Homo sapiens: one gene and its partners. The protein of the gene in region 1 purifies or fractionates together with the protein of each later gene. This does not show direct contact. Each region holds a gene or a part of one and is shown in the gene's direction. Other genes may lie near its edges.

Region 1 (7,697 bases):
TTCCAGGTTTCAGTAAGCTATATGATTGCACTACAGCACTCCAGGGTGGGTAACAGAATGAGACTATGTCTCTAAAAAAAATAAAAAATAAAAAAAAATTGTTTGGCAATTACCAAGGCCACTTTCCTGGTGGAACTCAGGAAAACAATGGAACAAGAGGGAAAAACCTCTAGGATTCCTTCCCATGTCTACAGAGGATCAGTCCCGCTCCTCACCTGGGCTCCCCGGGCACGGCCCCCCTCCACCTCTCCAGCTTTAGCTTCTGCTGCCATTCTTCTTCCCTTTGACTCTTAGGCCACACTCGACTACTTACATTCTCCCACTAGTCCAAGTCTTTCACATAGCTGCACCTTTGCTTACAACATCCTCTCCCATTCCTGGCTATTTCCTCCTTTTTCTTTAAAACCTAGGTATCACTTCTCTAGAAGGCCCTCCTTGTCCTCTGTGTCTCCCATCCTAGCATGTCACACTGTCCAAGAGTTCAGCTGTCTAACTAGACTGCCAGACACTGGGCCAGAATAATCGCTGGATTGTGCAACTTGAGTGGAGGCTAACAGAGCTATAAAGTCCTGACAGAAATCAGAGAGACTTTTTTTTTTTTTTTACTATATTCCATAATTTAAAACTGACTCTGGCCAGGTGTGGTGGCTCATGCCTGTAATCCTAGCACTTTGAGAGGCTGAGGCTGGAGGATCACTTGAGCCCAGGAGTTCGAGACCAGCCCTGGCAACACAGTGAGACCCCCATCACTACAAAAAAAAAAAAAGAAAAGAAAGAAAGAAAGAAAGAAAAAAAGATAGTTGGGTGTGGTGGTGCATACCTGCAGTCCTAGCTACTCGGGAGGCTGAGGTGGATGGATCACTTGAGACTGGGAGGTTGAGGCTGCAATGAGCCATGGTTGCCCCATTGCACTCTAGCCTGAACAGAGTGAAACCCTGTCACAAAACAAAACAGAACAAAACAAAACAGGACTCTAAGAGAAGGCCTGAGAGAAAAGACTTCTAATAGGTTCAGGACACATTCTTTGATAGAAGTGGCAAATTAGAAAGCTCAGGGAAAAGATGGAAATATCTTCTGTGATGGACTTGGACTTTCAGTTGAGACAGGAATGGGATGGAGTGCTAGAAAGGCAGATATGTGGCCGGGCATGATGACTCACACCTGTAATCCCAGCACTTTGGGAGGCCGAGGCGGGTGGATCAACAGATCAGGAGATCGAGACCATCCTGGCTAACATGGTGAAACCCTGCCTGTACTAAAAAATACAAAAAATTAGCTGGGCATGGTGGCAGGTGCCTGTAGTCCCAGCTACTTGGGAGGCTGAGGCAGGAGAATTGGCGTGAACCCGGGAGGCAGAGCTTCCAGTGAGCCAAGATCGTGCCACTGCACTCCAGCCTGGACGACAGAGCAAGACTCCGTCTCAAAAAAAAAAAAAAAAAAAAAAAGGCAGATATTCAACGGCTGTATAGAGTATGGCAGGCTGTGGTTTTTTCAAAGACTTCAGAAGAAGTGAAATATTCCTTTGAGATACACAATTAAAACTAACAGCAAGGCAGCTTCTTCTGAGATGTATTCATTCCACAAGCTGAGAGTGGGCAGCAGTCTCTCCAACGGGGCATTTTCAAGCAAATGGGATCTGATGCTCCTCTCTGGATAGAAGGAGAGACCACCCCTAGGTGCTCCCCTGCCCTGTGACCCTCAGACTACCTTGGTGCCAGCCCAAGGCAGTGCGGCCCAAACACTGTGAAGTCTTTTGAGAACCTCCAGGTTGAGTACAACCTCACTGACTTTTTTCATTAAGAACAAAAGCTTAATTTTCATAAACACCTTTTCCAGGAGCACCAAGCTAGCCCTCTTTCAACACCAGCAAAATGGAGAAAAGGAAAATCTAAACAGTATCCAACCTAGGTTTTCCAGATTTTGTCAGTTAATTCCCATTTTTAAGGTCACTCTGCTCACTGAAAGGCAGAAGAAGGATTTAAAAGCCTCTTTCAGAGAAGGCAATACCATTTTAGTCCTCCACATCCTTCATGGTTTTCTCTACTGGCTTAGCTGTGCTCAAAACAAGGACTTCTTTTTCCTTCATTTAGATATTCAGAATCTAGGACATCATAAGGTTGTGGATGTTTTAGAAAATAGATAATCTTCTGGCATGAGAAATATCCTTAATTAGCTATTTTTCCTCAAAACTGGAGGGGGGGTGAGTATTGACATTTGGGTAGCTTATGCAATTCAAGAGCTTCTGTCTTCTGTCTTCAAGTATTGCCTTATGTTAGAAATAAGTTTCCAGAAAATAAATGTCAAAGACCAGACACTCATGCTAAAGGCTAGATGCTTCCAATACAAACTTACGAACCTCCTCCTACCTTTCCTAAAAGGGACTGTTACATGGGGTACAAATATGAATGATTAATTTATTTTCTGCCCACATATAAGAATCAATTCATAACACTTTCCTGTTTGGGTGAGCTACTGGGAAGAATAAACAAAAGCTGGCTAGAACTCCACAAAGTTCCACTGTTCTTTTGTGCTTTCTCTGCTGCACTGTTACATGAGAGTTCCAAGGCAGCAGGGTCACGTGGGATGCTATACATCAGTGGTCCCCAATCTTTTTGGCACTAGGGACTGGTTTCGTGGAAGACAATTTTTCTATGGACCAGGGTGGGGGTGGGGAGATGGGGGATGGTTTTGAGGTAAAACTGTTCCACCTCAGATCTTCAGGCAGTACTTAGATTCTCACAAGGAGCACGCAACCTAGATCCCTCACATGTGCAGTTCACAACAGGGTTCACACTCCTGTGAGGATCTAATGCTGCCACCGATCTGACAGGAGGCAGAGCTCAGGCGGTAATGCTCACTCACCTGCCACTCACCTCCTGCTGTATGGCCCTATTCCTAACAGGCCATGGACAAGTACAGGTCTGCAGCCTGGGGATTAGGGACCCCTGCTATACATGACTGTATGGTACATAGCACTTCTGTGGCATGTGGTTTAAGCTCAGTGTCATTTGATGGCCAGGAGATCCACTTGAAAATCCCTATTTTTAGCAGACCTTGTAGGATGCCAATATTTGGGGCCAGAGTCTCGTTACTAAAATGAATGCTATGGAGCTAAGGCTGTGGTGCCCAGCTGGGCTAGACATTTGCAAAAAGAGAGCAGACTGGCAGACAGTGCCAATTCTCAACAGAATCTTTTGATTAGAATGCCAAGTTGCTATAAGGGTATCAGTAACATCCTCACCCTTTAGCAGGCAAAGGAGGCTGGGTATGTGAGAAAACAAACTCTGATCCACCTGATCCTCCACTGCTTTTTGATTCTGAGAAAAAAAAAAATTGTTCAGTAACTCCAGCTGCCTGAACAGAAATTACTTTCTGAGGAGCTAGAAGCCCTGACTGGAAAAGAGCTCTGGGGGATTATGGCATGGGAGGAGAGCTGTCAGGCATCAGGCTTATGTGGGAAGGACCCACGCTGACTACAACAGTACAAGTAACTGCCTGAGTGGCTCCATAACATGGAAACAGCAATCGTATGTTCCAAAGACAGAGTTACTGTTTTAAGGACAGAGGAACCTTTGTATAGATTCTTAGTGAAAAGCTTATTTTAAGGATGTTTGCTGAAACTCCATGTTTTTCACATTTCTTTTCAAAAGAGCATTGTCCTTCATATATAGTACATGAAAAATTACAATATTCATGTTTTTTAGATACAAAGTCATATACAAATAGAGGAGGAATAATTTCAAATTGCAAACCATACCAGCAAAGAAAGAGGGAAATGAGACTCTAGATATGGATTTATTAGGTGACAGGGATTCTTTTCTCTATATTTTAATATATTTTCCAAGTTTTGAACCACGGGCTAAGGATGGGCCTGTTCTCTGTCCTGCCTAGAAACTGACAGAAGCATGGGTGACCAATCCCAGACATGCTTGGCACTGCTGAGTTTTCATCTCTGTTGTAATCTTCTGACACCTCCTTGCAAAATATCAAGTGTTATATGCTAATACTGGCCCTCTCTTTGTTGAAGGAGAAAGCATGTAAAAAGACAACTGTCCAAACCCTGTGGCTACAAAGTCTTTTTTTGGCTTCCTAAGAGATTTACTCTATTCTTCTATTTCTAGAACTTTTCTAAGTTGGAAGATTTCAAATGTGAGATAGTGTTAGATCCAGGTTGAGTAAGGATTTTATAAAATACTAAATAATGATCAGAGATGGGAATAATCAGCCTAGATAAAAGCATATTCAGCAGGATGTCAAAATATACCAGATCCTCATATAAACAGCATGGATTACATTAACAGGCCTCCCTGGGTGAGTAGCGTCTCTTTCGCCTACCTTACGCTCACCCCATGGTTATATAACCTTTTGAACGGAATTTGGAAATTCTTCTGACCCTGTCCTGCTTGCTGATAGAGTTGAGCCAGTGGCTGGCAGGGGCATAATCTAATAGGCGAAACTGGAAACACACAAATTCACAGTCCTCTTGTCTTAGCCCAGAGACTGTACAGGCAAGGAAAGAAAGACTCGCCCCATCTCCCTCCTCCCCTCCTCTGGCCTAAGTTGCCGCTGACTTCACCCAACAGGCACCTGACCCTCCCAGATGAGCTGGGAGGGGCTAAAGCCTGGTGCAGCCATGGTAGGGGTGGAGGTACAGGCAGCAAACAATATTTAAGATGCTGACTTGTGGAGCATTCGGGCTTGGAAGGAAAGCTATAGGCTACCCATTCAGCTCCCCTGTCAGAGACTCAAGCTTTGAGAAAGGCTAGCAAAGAGCAAGGAAAGAGAGAAAACAACAAAGTGGCGAGGCCCTCAGAGTGAAAGCGTAAGGTTCAGTCAGCCTGCTGCAGCTTTGCAGACCTCAGCTGGGCATCTCCAGACTCCCCTGAAGGAAGAGCCTTCCTCACCCAAACCCACAAAAGATGCTGAAAAAGCCTCTCTCAGCTGTGACCTGGCTCTGCATTTTCATCGTGGCCTTTGTCAGCCACCCAGCGTGGCTGCAGAAGCTCTCTAAGCACAAGACACCAGCACAGCCACAGCTCAAAGCGGCCAACTGCTGTGAGGAGGTGAAGGAGCTCAAGGCCCAAGTTGCCAACCTTAGCAGCCTGCTGAGTGAACTGAACAAGAAGCAGGAGAGGGACTGGGTCAGCGTGGTCATGCAGGTGATGGAGCTGGAGAGCAACAGCAAGCGCATGGAGTCGCGGCTCACAGATGCTGAGAGCAAGTACTCCGAGATGAACAACCAAATTGACATCATGCAGCTGCAGGCAGCACAGACGGTCACTCAGACCTCCGCAGGTAAGGAGACCAGTCCCCTGAGGGAGCGTGGAGTGCCTCCCCATCTACAGCACTGCTTCTACATATCCTGGTCATCAGAACCACTACTGGGGCCTCTTTTGTGGGTACACTTTCCCTTTAGTAAAGGCTTATGCAGTATTTCCTTTGACTTCTAATGCTATGTAAGTTTACCTAACACCTTCACGGGTCTCTTTTATCCACACAGTGTTTCAGCCTACCATCTTGGAGTGCTGAGATACTACATGGTTTGCCCAAAGTCACCCAGCAAGTCTTAGAAGCAGGGTTCAAGTCTTCCTGATTGGTGTAGCTCTGCTACTTCCTCACCAAGAGCTGACAGGCTATATCTCAAGAAATTCCAAGGAAGCACCAAACTGTAACAGCTGTTCCTCTGGAAGCAAAGTTTTGCCAGAAACAGTTCTCTGGTGTTCCTAAGATTTACCAGGAATGAGCATTAATGGAATTTTGTGTCCTCTCTCTGTAAACGTAACTCTTCTCATTGGCTCAGAGTTAAGTGTAGAGACACATAACCATGTGAAGAGTCCCTTTGTGTTCAGGAAGGATGCGGCTCCTTAAGGTTCCTCAATTGTGATACGTCTATTTTTTTCCATGGTCTTAAATGAATTTCTCCGAATACAGGATTTTTTAAATGCAATGCTGAAATATAGACTTAATAGGCCAAAAATAAGATAAATTTAATCTTTCTTTTGCAAAATAACTTTTATTTCTGGTTAGCTCAGCTCAGGTGGGCCAACATGAATTTACGGTTTAGAGATAAAAATTTGGTTTTCTGAAATTATCAGGAAAATATTAGTTGTAAGGAGCATATCCTATAGACATGTCATTTCTTGCTGATATAAAAACCATTGGTCCCATTATAAACTACATGAAGAACAAAGACATGATCAGCTTCTACTGACTAAGTCAATGGTTAACCTCAGCTCAAATTAAGAAAAAGTTTTAACATGAAACCAAGCTTGAAAATTCTGTTACCTGAACCAACATGTATCAATCACTTTCTAAGCATGGACTTCCGGGCCCTCAGTTTGGGATTAGAAAGGTATTCTCAGGCCATTTTCCAGACAAGTGAGTCCTGATTTGGTCTGTGAGATGAAACCAGACATGCGGAAGACCAGGCCAGACAGAGGAATCTGACCGTGCCACTTCCTGCTCATCCAAACAGGAGGCTTTCTCACCATCCTGCAAGGAGGTTCTTGGGGTCAAGTGCAGCTCTCCCACCAGGTCTCTTGCTCTTCTTGCCCAGGACATCATTCCTTATTTTTCTTCTCTATGACCAAGTGCTCAGTTACCCTTATATTCTATAAGTAGGTAGTCCCTTAGAGGAAGCAGTAAGTTGGTGCTTTCACCACTAAGACGAAATGAAGAATAGTGATGGCGAAGGCACACGTACTCTACCTCCCTTTCCCAAGGTGCTCTGCAAGAGAACCTATGTGCCTCAGACAACTCCCATCTGCCATCTTGGTGCTCCTCTCTAAGGTCCCAGTGCAGTGGTCACCAAGAAAAGCACCCCGAGACATAGCAGGCAGGAAGCTTCTCTTGGATAGTAAGGGCCGCAGTCTCTGAATCCTATCAGAAAAGGCTGTCTCTTCCACTATGCTCTTTGATATTTAGAATACAGAGCTTAAATCCTGCATAAAGTAGCAGCTCCATGGCCCTAGAGTAAAAAAACTGGCCAGTCTGATGCTCTCATTTCATTGTTTTAACAAAACTTCTGGGAGGAAGGCCTCAAAGGTTCTTCTGAGTGTTTTGAGGTGCTAGCTGGATGGAAGGGGAAAATATGTGATAATAAAATCTATCTCCCTTAATTATGGTCTCAGGTGGCAGTAGCCACCATCTCTGAACAACAACAAAAACAACCAACCAGGAAACATCAACAAAACCAGACTCTATGAGATATTCACGACTGATTTGTTATAGTGGCGGCTGTCTAAGAAGTCTGAATCTATCTGACAGGAGTATCTGTTACGTGGCCCTCATACACTGTAACATTTCTAGAATTCATGGCCCAGCTATAGCAGAATAATTTATTTCAGAGTTAACCTGAAACCACCTGTTGGAACGTCCCACTAATGCTATCCAGGTGAAGGGCTTCCCTACCCCTCTGCTCCACCGCTAGTAAAGCCAAAATACACCCCCTCTGGATCTCCCCATATCCACCTCTCCCAAATGCAGACACTGATGGGTAATTAACACCACTGAGAATCCCAGGGTAGAAATAAAGGCTCAGTCTCTAAACACTCAACTCAGATGGAGCCACTGGGTCTAAATGCTCACCCTGTGGTTTGTTCTCTTGTAGATGCCATCTACGACTGCTCTTCCCTCTACCAGAAGAACTACCGCATCTCTGGAGTGTATAAGCTTCCTCCTGATGACTTCCTGGGCAG
Region 2 (7,029 bases), on another chromosome or scaffold:
GTGAAACTTCATCTCAAAAAAAATTATAAAGAAATAATATCAGTGACTAGTTAGTATGTTTCTGTAGGGCTTAGTACAGACATGTATTAATTCTTCTAACAACTTCTTGAGGTTAGTACCTTTACTCCTTCTTATCGTTAAGAAACCTGATGCTTAGGGATGGGCACAGTGGCTCACGCCTGTAATCCCAGCACTTTGGGAGGCCAAGGCGGCAGGACTGCTTGAGCACAGGAGTTCAAGACCAGCCTGGGCAATATGGTGAAACCCCGTCTCTACCAAAAATATAAAAAATTAGGCATGATGGCACATGTCTGTGGCTCCATTTGTTAGGGAGGAGGGTGAGGTAGGAGGATTGTTTGAGTCAGGGAGGCAGAGGTTGCAGTGAGCCGAGATCGCACCACTGCACTCTGGTCTGGGTAACAGAGTAAAACCCTGTCTCACACAAACAAAAAAAAGATATAAAAGAAACCTGATGCTTAGAAAGGTAAAAAGGGCCAGGTGTGGTGGCTCATGCCTGTAATCCCAGCACTTTGGGAGGCCAACATTGCTCAAGTCCCAGAGTTCGAGGCTGTGATGAGCTATGATCACACCACTGCACTCCAACCTGTGTAACAGAGCAAGACCCTGTCTCAAAAAAAAGACTTGGACTGGTTCAGGTCAAGTACCCACTCCACAGCTAGAGGGATGGGATCAGCCTCTCCCAAACCACAGGAGTGACTGCCGGGGAAGAGTGATTCCTCGAGGGTAAATTGAGATGTTACTATCAAAAGAAGAGAGATTGAGATTGCATTTGGCTAACGGTTTAAATAAAGAGGGTTTATTTTCTCAAGTAAAAGAAAGTCTAGAGGTAATTTCTAGCATTGGGTCAGCTACGCAACTGTGTCATTAGAGACCAGCCTCTTTGTAGCTTTGCATTCTAGTATCGTTAGTGTTTTGGCTTTTATTCTAATGCTTAGTACGTCATGGTCTCACATAGCTGCCATCACTTCAGAAATCGAGTCTGAGTTCAAGGCAGAAAGAGAGAGACTAAAAGCCATGTTAGCTGTGTTTGTCCCTTGGTATTAAGAAAACAGAAGCCTTCCCAGAAGTGCCCCCAGTAGACCTCTCAAGGGTCAGAATTGACTGGGTAACACAATCAACTGCAGCAGCAAAGGAGGCCGAGAAAGCTTCTGGATTTCCAACCTCTGGTGGGAGGCCATGAGGTAAAGAGGGTAGGAATGAATTTGTTTTGGGCCAACCAACCTGTTCTGTTTTCCACAAGGTTGAAGGTGACAACTGGTATCTACTGCAAATGTCAAACTAAGACTTTTGGCCAGGTGCGGTCGCTCACACCTGTAATCCCAGCACTTTGGGAGGCCAAGGCGGGTGGATCATGAGGTCAGGAGTTTGAGACCAGCCTGATCAACATGGTGAAACCCCGTCTCTACTAAAAATACAAAAATTAGCCGGGCATGGTGGTGCATAATCCCAGCTACTCGGGGCTGAGGCAGGAGAATCGCTTGAACCCAGGAGGCGGAGTTTGAAGTGAGCCAAGATCACGCCACTGCACTCTACCCTGGGCAGCAGAGCGAGACTCTGTCTCAAAAAAACGAAACAAAAAACCTAAGACTTCTATGCGTAGTTTGCGTTCTTTATATTGTGTCCATTTAAATGACAACATCGTGACTCTTAATTGGGACCTAGGAATTTACTTAACCAGTCTCTTGGTATGAAGTCTCTAGATGATTTCTAGCTCTCAGTGTTTTCTTCTGCTGTCACCAATCCTAGGACAGAAACTGGAGGTCTTAAGTGGAATTAGTGAGGGCCACATCAACATAGGATCCCAGACTCTGAATCTGCCTCCATGCATGTAAGAGCCTCATTGTCAGGTCTCTTTTTTATTTCCAGATTTTGGGGAATGTCTCAGAATTCCAAAGAGTGGTTGAAGTGCTCCAGGACAGCGTGGACTTTGATATTGATGTGAACGCCTCTGTGTTTGAAACAAACATTCGAGGTAAGGGCTGCTCTCTAGGACCTTTAAAAGAAAAAAGAGTGTGAAGTTGCCTCTGTAAACCAAGAAGTGGTAAATAGGATTTTAAGGACTGACCATGCCAGGACCCTTGGCCAAAACCTCTGACCGACAGAGCTCTTCTTCCCTCCTGGAGGGTGAGGTGGGGAAGTCTCAGGATTTCCCCATCAGTTTCAGATATGAAAGTGAGCAGGAGACTAAGAGACTGGAAAGAAATACACCAGATTACTCACCTCTTTAATATGTATTTGATACTAGGCATACAGCTATGAACAAGAAAGATATGATCCTTGCCTTCTTGGAACTTATTGTCTGTCCAATCCAATTTTCTGCAGTGATGGAAATGTCTTATAGCTGTGTTTTGTCCAGTATGGTAGCCACGAACCACATGAGCTATTGAGCATTTGAAATGTATCTACTACAACTATGGAATTGAATTTTTAATTTCATTTAATTTTAATGATATTAAATTTAAGTAGTCACATGTAGTTAGTGATTATTGTATTGGACAGTGCAAATCTACAGCATTAATCTTCCAAACTTGGCAGCCCATAGGAACCACTCCCAAGTGGTTAAAAAATTCAGATGTTGAGACTCCACCCTAAACCTAATGAATTGGAATCTCTGTGTTGGGTCCTAGAATCAGTATTTTTAGCAGACTTCCAGTGATTCTTGTGAAGCCAGCACAGCCCTTATTTGCATCGAACCTCTAGACCACTTAACAGCTGTCACCTCTGGATGGCAGAGTTCTATTTTTCCCCATTATTTTGTATGTTTTCTGCAATGAAACTTATATTCCAGACATATGATCCATAAAAGATTAAAAAAGAGAAGAGAGCAGAGGGACAACATGGTCTAAAATCCTGGTTTAGGAATCCGGCCTGAGTTTGAGGCTGTACTTGCTGCTATGTCTCCCAGCTTCTGAGCCCAGTTTGTCATCTGTAAATGAAGGTCATTCTTATACCTTTATTTCTGATAGGAATATAAGTGATACCAGCTTTCTTTTGGTTGACATTTTCCCATGTATCTTTTTCTATCCTTTCCATCTTTCTGTAGTTTTATGATTAGATACATCTTTTGCAAATAGTGTATTATATTTTGTTTATCCATTCTGACAATCTTTAACTGGCACATTTAATCCATTTACATTTACTGTAATTACTGATATATTTGCACTCATTTCTACAGTATTGTGCTCTCTGTGCCGTCTTCTTTTTTTTTTTTTTTTTTTTTTTTTTGAGGCGGAGTCTCACTCTGTCGCCCAGGCGGGAGTGTAGTGGTGCAATCTTGGCTTACTGCAACCTCTGCCTCCCGGGTTCAGGCGATTCTCCTGTCTCAGCCTCCTATGTAGCTGGGATTGCAGGTGCCTGCCACCGTGCCCTGCTAATTTTTGTATTTTTAGTAGAGATGGGGTTTCACCATGTTGGCCAGGCTAGTCTCGAACTCCTGACCTCAGGTGATCCGCCCCCCATCAGCCTCCCAAAGTGCTGGGATTATAGGTGTGAGCCACTGCACCTGGCCCTGTGCCATCTTCTTTATGTTCCTTTATTCTGTCCTTTTTCATGCCTTCTTTAGATTGTTTTCCCCCCATTCCATTTTCCTCTTACTAATATGGAAATTATGCACAATATCTAGCTTTTTACATAGTTTTCCAAGCAAATTTAACAAACATAACTTATCAAAGTCTAAATTTAATGAAAATCTTTGTTCTCCTCCTGAATAATGCAAAACCTGACTTAGAGAACATCCTGACCTATATGCTACAGTTATATATTTTAGTTATTTGTTTTAAACCTTCCATACATTATAATTTTTGTTCTATATTGTTGAAGTTTTGCATTTACACATAAATTTACCACTTTTTTTGTTGTTGTTGGTTTGAAATAGAGTCTCACTCTGCCACCCAGGCTGGAGTGCAGTGGCGCGATCTTGGCTCACCTCCACCTCCTGGGTTTAAACGATTCTCCTGCCTCAGCCTCCAGAGTAGCTGGGATTACAGTTGTGCACCACCACACCAGGCTAATTTTTGTATTTTTAGTAGAGATGGTGTTTCACCACATTGGCCAGGCTGGTCTCAAACTCATGATCTTGAGTGATCCACCTGCTTTGGCTTCCCAAAGTGCTGGAATTACAGGTTTAGCCACTGTGCCTGGCCTATTTACCACTTTTTTGACTATTTTTTCTTTTCGTGTCTCAGACCTTTTCTCTAAAGTATTTCCTTTAGAATTTCCTTTAATGCAGGTGTGTGCTTCATAAACATTCCCAGCTTTTGTTTATATGAAAATGTCTTTATTCAACTGCCTTTGGTTGGCCTTTGAGTGATATTTTTGCTGGGTGTATGGTTCTAGGTTGATGGTTACTTTCTCTTATTGTGTTAAAAACTTTTTCCATTATCTTCTGGTTTCATTATTGTTAAGAAGTAATCTGTCAATGTAATTATTATTTATTTGTAGAGAATCTTGTTTTGGTTTTCACTTTGGCTGTCTTCTCCTTTTAAAAACTTTTTGTTATGGAAAACTTCAAACATAAAAGTAGAGAAAATAGCATAATGAACCAGACGTGCCCATCACCCAGCATTAATAATTATTATTACATGGATTCTGGCTGCATTCGAGATCATTTTTCCCTTTGGTGTTCTGCAGTTTTACCATAAGGTACATACATGTAGATTTCTTTTCTTTCTTTCTTTTCTTTTTTTTTTTTTTTCTGAGATGGAGTCTCGCTCTGTCGCCCAGGCTGGAGTGCAGTGTCATGATCTCAGCTCACTGCAACCTCCGCCTCCTGGGTTCAAGCAATTCTCCTGCCTCAGCCTCCCGAGTAGCTGGGACTACAGGCGCACAACGCCATGCCCGGCTAATTTTTTGTATTTTTAATAGAGACAGGGTTTCACCGTGTTTACCAGGCTGGTCACGAACTCCTGAGCTCAGGCAGTCCACCTGCCTCAGCCTCCCAAAGTGCTGGGATTACAGGCATGAGCCACCGTGCCCAGACTTTTTTTTTTTTTTTTTGAGACGGAGTCTCACTCTGTCACCCAGGCTGAAGTGCAGTGGTGCAATCTTGGCTCACTGCAACCTCCACCTCCTGGGTTTAAGCCATTCTTCTGCCTCAGCTTCCCAAGTAGCTGGGACTGCAGGCGCTTGCCACCACGCCCAGCTAATATTTTGTATTTTTAGTAGAGACAGGGTTTCACCATTTTAGCCGGGATGGTCTCCATCTCCTGACCTCGTGATCTCCACCTCGGCTCCCAAAGTGCTGGGATTACAGATGTGAGCCACCATGCCTGGCCTGCATAGGGACCTTTTATCAGACTTCCACTTGGGGCAGGTCTGACCTTGGTCTCCTATTCCCCCTCTGCAGGGAGGAGGGGAATTTTGAAACTTAGGGTCACCAGTTATTTTCATTGAGAGGGCCACTCAGGATATCTATTTAGCTGTATTTCCAAGAACCTTTGTGTCTTTTTAAAAGTTCTAAGTAGGCCGGGTGCGGTGGCTCATGCCTGTAAATCCAGCACTTTGGGAGGCTGAGGCAGGTGGATCATGAGGTCAGGAGATCGAGACCATCCTGGCTAGCACAGTGAAACACCGTGTCTACAAAAAAAAAATCCAAAAAAATTAGCCGGGCATGGTGGTGAGCTCCTGTAGTCCCAGCTACTCGGGAGGCTGAGGCAGGAGAACGGCGTGAACCTGGGAGGCGGAGCTTGCAGTGAGCCGAAATCGCGCCACTGCACTCCAGCCTAGGTGACAGAGCGAGACTCCGTCTCAAAAAAAAAAAAAAAAAGTTCTACATATTGCATAATAAGTTGAAATAGATAAATTAGTAAAATAAAGGTAATAACCATCATTACCCCTTCCCCCCAGGTATGACAGGTGACTGGGAGACAGACAGAGTGACAAATGGAATGAGCATGGGCTTTGGAATCAAAGATACTCAGCCCTACCACCTACTAGATGGGTGACCTGGGGCAAGTCACTTTATCTCATGGAACCTCAGTATCTTCATACGAAGAGGGGACAGTAGTACTTAGTGCTTGGTACACAATAGGGACTTACAAAAAATAGCCACTGTTCCTGTGATGAACCAAGAGAAGAAAACCCCATAAACTTAACACCATAGAAATATGTGGGATTAAGGGACTCTTTTTTCGCTGGGTGGCTCTAGCTCCTTCCCAGTGAGCCACCCCAACAGAGTGAGGTTTTTGTTTGTTTGTTTTTACCCGTGAAATAGCTTCAGGAGGTCCTGAGAACATGCGCCCCACAATAGAGTGTTTATGTTTAACTCGCACAGGGGAAAGATCCTTGATCCCTTGGTCTTTCCCTTTGGACTGTGCCATTTGCTTTCTGTGCCATCTGTAGTGGTAGGAGGACTCCTGTCTGCTCATCTGCTCTCCAAGAAGGCTGGGGTGGAAGTAGAGGCTGGATGGCCCTGTTCCGGGCCTCTCCTGAGAATGGCTGAGGAGGCGGCCCGAAAACTCCTCCCAGGTAAGACCCACACAGAGATGGGGCAGAGACGAAGTCCAGTAGGTCCTGCTTCCCTTGCTGAAGATGAGAGTGGCAGTGCTGAATTAATTCCTGGTATTTCTCACCAGGTGTATTTGGTCTTTCTACCCACCAGGCACCCACCATGGAAATCAGGAGTGTCCTGGGCATTTTAAGGGCCTGCTGGGGCCCTGACCCGGATGGATGAGTTGACCTCATTATTGTTTGCAGGGGATGGTTGAAGGTGGCCAGCCTGGTGGGTGGAAGGCCATTACCCTTATTTTGAATGAGCCCATTTGTCCCCTTCCAGGTACTACAGTTATTCCACACACTGCTGGAGTAACAGGGGCCCAGGGAAGGGTGTTGGTGTGAGCATTAGCAGCCCTGGATTCTAGACTCAGCTCTGCCAGCCAACATCGTGACCAAGCCACTCTTTCTCTTCATAGTTTGTTGTTTGTTTGTTTGTGATGGAGTCTTGTTCTGTCGCCCAGGCTGGAGTGCAGTGGCACAATCTCAAGTCACTGTAACCACCGCCTCCTGGGTTCA
Region 3 (6,151 bases), about 170 Mb from region 1:
TTCTGTGCCCCAGCAATACCCACCACACCTTCCTGCATGTCTACATTTCCTTTGTTTTTTCTGGTTTTTAAATAAATCCTCTTCCCTCCCTTCTTTGACATTATCTTATACTTTAAACCCCAGCTCAAGTGTCACTTTCTGAAGGAACTTTTTGAAGAAACTTCTCAAATCTCCTTACAGTTCTCCCTCTGTATCTGTGGGTTCTGCACCCATGGATTCAACCAACTGTGGATAGGAAATATTCAAGAAGAAAAAAGCATCTGTATTGAACATACAGAGATTTTTTTTCTTGTCATTATTCTCCAAACAATACAGTATACCAATGATTTGCATAACATTTACGTTGTATTAGGTATTATAAAGTAATCAAGAGATGATTTAAAGTACATGGGAGGATGTGTGTCAGTTATATGCAAATACTGTGTCATTTTACATAAGGGACTTGAGCATCCAAAATCCTTATCTCTCTTTCATAACGTGTCACAGTTGAGTTTTCTATTTATTTTCCGTGATTATTTGTATAATATCTTTTTCTCCCGTTGGACTATAAGACCCATAAGGGCAGGTATAGCATTTGGTATTGCTCCTCATTTTATCCCTAGCACTATGCAAATGATGACTTGGAGGATATTTGCTGGCCAACTGCATCACAGAGGCAGAGACTGAACAGGATGTAGCATGTAGGCGTCGATGCTATTTAAGCACTTTCTTGTAGGAACCCTAAATAAAATGCCTCTACTGGTTTCACTGTATATTCATTATAAGAGGTTTAACTCACTCTTCAGCCTTCCAGTGGATTTTAAAATGACTATATCTTATAATTCATAGGCCTAAAATAATAGAATTTTATGAATAATCTCAGTTCTTGTCTTGTGAAAGTATTTCTGATCAGTCACATTAATACCCTTAGTCATTCAAAAAAATCTATGTTATCTGCTTCTTTATGACTTACTGAGTAGGAATTTCACTTTTCAAAGGAATATTATTTGAAAATATAGCAATGATATATGCTGTTTAAAATTGATTCTGTTTAATATGTTCTTATGCATAAGCTTTAGGTATCTAATACATTTTAGCCATACATTGCAAATCTCTATATATTTTAATATTATTATTGGTTAGCGTACTTCTTGGCTTACTAATGTCCACTGATGTCAGTCTTAGTTATTGTCATTCCTTCCAATTTGGAAGAACGTTTATTTTCTAACACTGACACATTTTGCACAGTGAATCTATAGGAAAATGTGACTGCATAAAGACAGTCTTCATTTCAGTGCTGATGCTCACCTTTCTGCATTAACATGAGTCTCTTTCACGTTTTATTTCATCTTGTTGCAAAAACCAATATGCTTTGGAAAGTGTAATAGTACATTTTTTTAGAGAAGTAGCATGAGGTTTGTTTCTTTCTCATACAGATCCTGAAATGGAAAATGAAGAACAACCATCCTCTGAAAATGATTCTCAGAATCAGAGTGGTGAACAGATTTCATCAAGTTCTCAGGAGGTTGATTTGGTTGATCAAGAGTCTTCTGAGGAAAATTCTCTAAATTCTCACCCAGAATCATTATCTCTAGCAGATATGGACAATGCTGCAAGCATTTCCCCTTCTGAACAGACTTCTAATCCCACAGAAAACCATGAGACTACAAATCTTAATGGTGAATGTACAGATTTAGATAACCAGCTTCAAGAACAATCAGAAACTGAGGAAGATTCCAATCCTAATGTTAGCTGGGGTAAAAAGGTCCAGCCTATAGACTCCATATTAGCAGACTGGAATGAAGATATAGAAGCATTTGAAATGATGGAGAAGGATGAGCTATGACTTGCTAAACAATCTGTTGGTAGGTATTTAAAAAGAAAAGGTAAACTGTGTGTGGTTAATAGACATCCTAATACTAAGCAGGCTTTCTAATGGGAGGCTTTAAGTATGGTGATGAACAACCACGTTCTGACTGGCGTAGTTATCGTAGGAATCTGGAGCATGCTGTGTTAGAATTGACCTTGTTTAAAACTGTCCCATCAAAAATGGAAATCCACAGTTCCCCCTTCAAATGCAGCACTGCACCACCCTGCAACACCTCAGGCCAGGGAAAGATTACTGAGCATTCCTGCGAACCAGATTTCTGTTGTCTCTGGATAGACAAGAAACAAAATTCATTTAGTAGTGGAGTGGGGAATAGGAGTTTGGATAGCCTTCTAATTAAAGGAAGCTCGCCTTTCTTGGTTTTGGGGGTTAGAGGCTCTTTTGGGAAGATGCATCCGAGTATTGTGGCATTCTGATTATGCTGCCTTCACAAAACACTCTAAGTGACCTAAGTGGTTATGAAGCAAATGCATTTATGGTGAAAACAGTCTTTGCTCATTGCTTTCTCTTGTTTCATTTAGTGACAAATGATCAAGATGACTTGATTTTTTTTCCTTCTTAACAATGTCTTTTTTATTTAAACCAAAGGTGAAGCCAGTGTACTTTCTCAGTGAGTTCTCTGCATAAAGACTAATCAGTGGGACCAGGTAAAAAGGTCATATAATACATTGTGGAGATTGCTTACTTAATACTTCTGAAAAATGGAGTAAGGGAGAAACTGTAATGTTGCAATATGAACCTCCCATTGGGCCTTCCATAGGGAAAGCTGTGACTACTCTGAAATGGAACCTAGCATTATATCCTTGTAGGGTAGATTATAAATCATTTCCAGTTCATTTCTCTTAGAGGTGATTACCTCTAGCCATCAGCCTTACTCCATCCCATGTTTGGTATGCAATTTGAGCCACAAGGCTCGTATCGCCAACAGCTATATACATTTTGTTCCATTTTTCTGTCTTACAGAGCCATGATAGAACTGTGGTTAGTGAGTTAAAATTCCTGGAGTAACTACTGTTTTTCTCCTTTGAAACTTAGGTTTCTAAAGTTGCACCTAAGGAATCTGTCACATTTTCTGTTGAATCATGGTTTTTGTTTTTGTTTTTAACAGATATTCCTTCTGATACGGACTTGAAAATTAGTGTATGGTGACCTGTGTTTAAAAAAAAAAGTACAATACAACTACATATAGCTATATAGCTTAATGAGACTTCCACCCCCCCCCTTTTTTTTTTTGGTTTGTTGTTGTTGTAGTAGTCTGGTGCTGGCCACATTTAAGTCTTAAAAATTTTTAAATTTTGTTGTTGATGTTTGTAGACAGCCCTGTTGTTGAAATCATGGCTTTATTCATTTTATTTATTTTTTAAACTTGCCTGAATTTGTTCTAAAGGAATATTTAAGAGACATAATTTTCTTCTCTTTACCATAACATTACACAAAACTTTTTCCTAAAACACGGTTGTGAGGTACTGATGAGGTGTAAGTGGAGCTGTTAAAAACAGCAGTGCTGTATTGCAGTTATGTATATTCGTGTACAGTATGTTTAGATCCCAGGTAAACATATTCTTTTCTGAGAGGATAAATACCTGCATTCAGATATTCCAGGTAAATATAATTGAGTCAGGGAGTAGTAAATCTGATGGAGAATTCACTTTGGGGAGGGGAAAAAGAATAGTATGCAAGACCCTTATTGGCTTTTAATTATACCTGAAACCAAAATGGATATTTTTAGTCTCTCTGCATGTGAGATTTGGTGTAACAAGATAGAACTATAATATATACAGTATATGGAAGGATAGATATAGTGCTTTGTTCATTTTAATTGCAAAGCTGCCAAAATAGTTGAAGCTTAATTACTTGACTTGCCTTGATTTATAGGACTGGGGCTTGGAGAAAATGAGCAGATGTTCCTCTAAGACATCGATTACAGAAGCCTTATATACATGGATTTGATTTTGTATTTGTAGCTGAAAGTCACTGTTGTCTAAAACTAACTTTTCTAAGTTATCAAAACAACCTAATTTCTTTTCCAACAAGGAGAACTTAATGGCATGAAGGATTGTGTGACACATTGGAAAAGCCAGCTTACTGCCACTCTCTTCCTTTGGCCATTAGAGGGAGGTGTTGCCTTTCATTGACGCTTAGAAGCAAATTGTTCACTTGTTAAGAAAAGTAAATCCTTAAAAAAAGAAAAGGAAAAAATTTAACCAATTTTTCTTAATACCCAGAAGGAATTATACTCAATATTTCCCTAGTTAAGAAAAGAGGAGATAATGTTCGTCTAAAAAACTCCAACGTTGTAATTACAACTCTACATTCATTTACTTACTTGACATACTGCCACAAAGTAGTTTTTGAGTTCATTAAAAATTCCAAAGGCATTAGTTGTTTTTTTTTTTTTTAGTGTTTTGTTTTTTAGTTAACTTTTATAGACATTTTAGTAACTTGCTAAAGATTCAGGGGATTCTATGAAACCCCGAATTTAGAAACATCTGGTCTACCTCAGTTAAATGTTGACTGCTTAGAAATATAGCTGAAGTGATCACCACAGCCATAAAATTGTTTAAGAAAGATTTATATAATGTTTACAAATCTGGAATCAAGGATTTTAGCTGAAATCCTTTAAGAGATATTAGAGCAAGTATTTAATTCAGGTATTTTCAAGTTTTAAAACTTAACCTGTTTACCTACTAAAAATAAAATAGCTAGTTTTTTTCTGCATATAAAAGTTCATTGAAATGATATGCCCTTATTTGCAATACTTTTCCCATAAAGTTTTAAGTGTGAAAGAATTGTAATTTACTAGATATGTTTGGTATGGGATATTTTGTTAGGCAAGTTTTCTTTTTTCTTCTTAAATTGCAATAGGCTTCCAAAAAGAGTATAATTGTTTCAGAACAAATTAACTCTTGGCATTATACGTCTCCCTTTTTCTTTACAGTATTAGTAAAAAGAAAAATTGTACACTTTCTGATTTTAACTTCACTAATGTAATTACTCTCTCAAGAAGCTTTTAAAATTTAAATTACCATCACACAACCTTTTTTATAGTAAAGCCAACATTTGTTCTCTCACCAAACCCCATGCCAAATTCATCATGAAGAAAGCTCAGCATAAGTAATTCAAATACTGCTTATAATTTTAGAGGGGGGTAGAATTTAGTAAATATTCCAGCCGGTCGTTTTATGCACAAGGCTTCAGTCAGAACATAGAAAAAAAAAACATTCTGTGAATGAAATATTGTATGTTCAGATTTTATAAAAGACATTTTTAAAAGCCCAATTTACAGCCGTATATTTTCTTATGATGTAATTTATGAAAAAGATGTCTGTACTAACAGGTGCTGTAACACTACTGTTGTTGGATTTTATTGTTTGGTGATAAATGTATACAATATTTCTAAGGGAAACTATGTACTGTGATGTAAAAGTCTGGGCAAAATGTATATAATCCTGTATATAATTATGTATTTGATTATAATTACTGATTGTAAAGATTTAATAAAATATGTAAATATTCCAGTTTAGTTTTAATTTGAATTTTTAGAATCACTGTGCATATCCTCATACTTTTATGTCTTGATGTTTATCACTCTGTTTTCCTTTTTTTTTTAAACTCATTTTATCCTCCGGGGATTGAATTCTGGGGACATTTTAGGCTGTAGAAACCCAAGCTTGTGGGCTAAAGTAAGGATTTTGTTCTAAGAAATCACTGAAAGTTTTTCAACAAGTCAGTAGCATGCACAAAGGTAATGCTAAGTGAATAAAACTCTAGAATTGTGTATAAATTATGATCCAGCGCTTGCTCACTCTCTCCATACACATATATACATACACATTATATATATATACACACACATATATATAATGACATTGACTCATTTATTCAACAAAGATTAAGGGCGTGCATGCCTTCTGTATGCCAGGCACTATTATAGGACCTGGGGTTGTAGTGGACAGATGGACAAAATGTGGTAAAGAAGATAGAAAATAAAGTAGTAAGTAAAAAGGACAATGAGTTTATGAAGAAAAAATTATGGTGAGGGGATAGAGAGTGGTGGAAATCATGGAGTGAGTTAAATAGCCAAAATACTAACAGTGGTTATCTTGGATTGTAGGCAATTGCTATTTCCTTATTTGTATATGTCAGTATTTTCATAAGTTTCCAAAATAAGCATTATGCTTTTAAAAATAAGTAGTTTAGGTCAGCGAAAGAAGAGAACATGAAAAATACACACGAGGTGGGGCATAGTGGTGCACACCTATAATCGCATCTCCTCCTCAAGAA

The links. The genes of interacting proteins can lie anywhere in the genome.
Region 2: the proteins of ANGPTL7 (region 1) and EDEM2 purify together in Homo sapiens (affinity purification with mass spectrometry; 2 studies listed by BioGRID and IntAct, with this or other methods). This does not show direct contact.
Region 3: the proteins of ANGPTL7 (region 1) and EDEM3 purify together in Homo sapiens (affinity purification with mass spectrometry; 2 studies listed by BioGRID and IntAct, with this or other methods). This does not show direct contact.

The regions. Positions count from the first base shown.
Region 1 is NC_000001.11:11,184,661-11,192,357, forward strand, and holds the start of ANGPTL7 (angiopoietin-related protein 7 precursor), read left to right. Parts: upstream 1-4,694; 5' UTR 4,695-4,919; coding exon 4,920-5,295; intron 5,296-7,609; coding exon 7,610-7,697. UniProt on the Homo sapiens protein: Has a role in the formation and organization of the extracellular matrix.
Region 2 is NC_000020.11:35,137,337-35,144,365, reverse strand, and holds part of EDEM2 (ER degradation-enhancing alpha-mannosidase-like protein 2 isoform 1 precursor), read left to right. Parts: intron 1-1,887; coding exon 1,888-1,993; intron 1,994-6,360; coding exon 6,361-6,486; intron 6,487-7,029. Other genes in the region: MMP24-AS1-EDEM2 (ER degradation-enhancing alpha-mannosidase-like protein 2), read left to right, coding at 1,888-1,993, 6,361-6,486. UniProt on the Homo sapiens protein: Involved in the endoplasmic reticulum-associated degradation (ERAD) pathway that targets misfolded glycoproteins for degradation in an N-glycan-dependent manner.
Region 3 is NC_000001.11:184,689,737-184,695,887, reverse strand, and holds the end of EDEM3 (ER degradation-enhancing alpha-mannosidase-like protein 3 isoform 2 precursor), read left to right. Parts: intron 1-1,415; coding exon 1,416-1,825; 3' UTR 1,826-5,651; downstream 5,652-6,151. UniProt on the Homo sapiens protein: Involved in endoplasmic reticulum-associated degradation (ERAD). Accelerates the glycoprotein ERAD by proteasomes, by catalyzing mannose trimming from Man8GlcNAc2 to Man7GlcNAc2 in the N-glycans.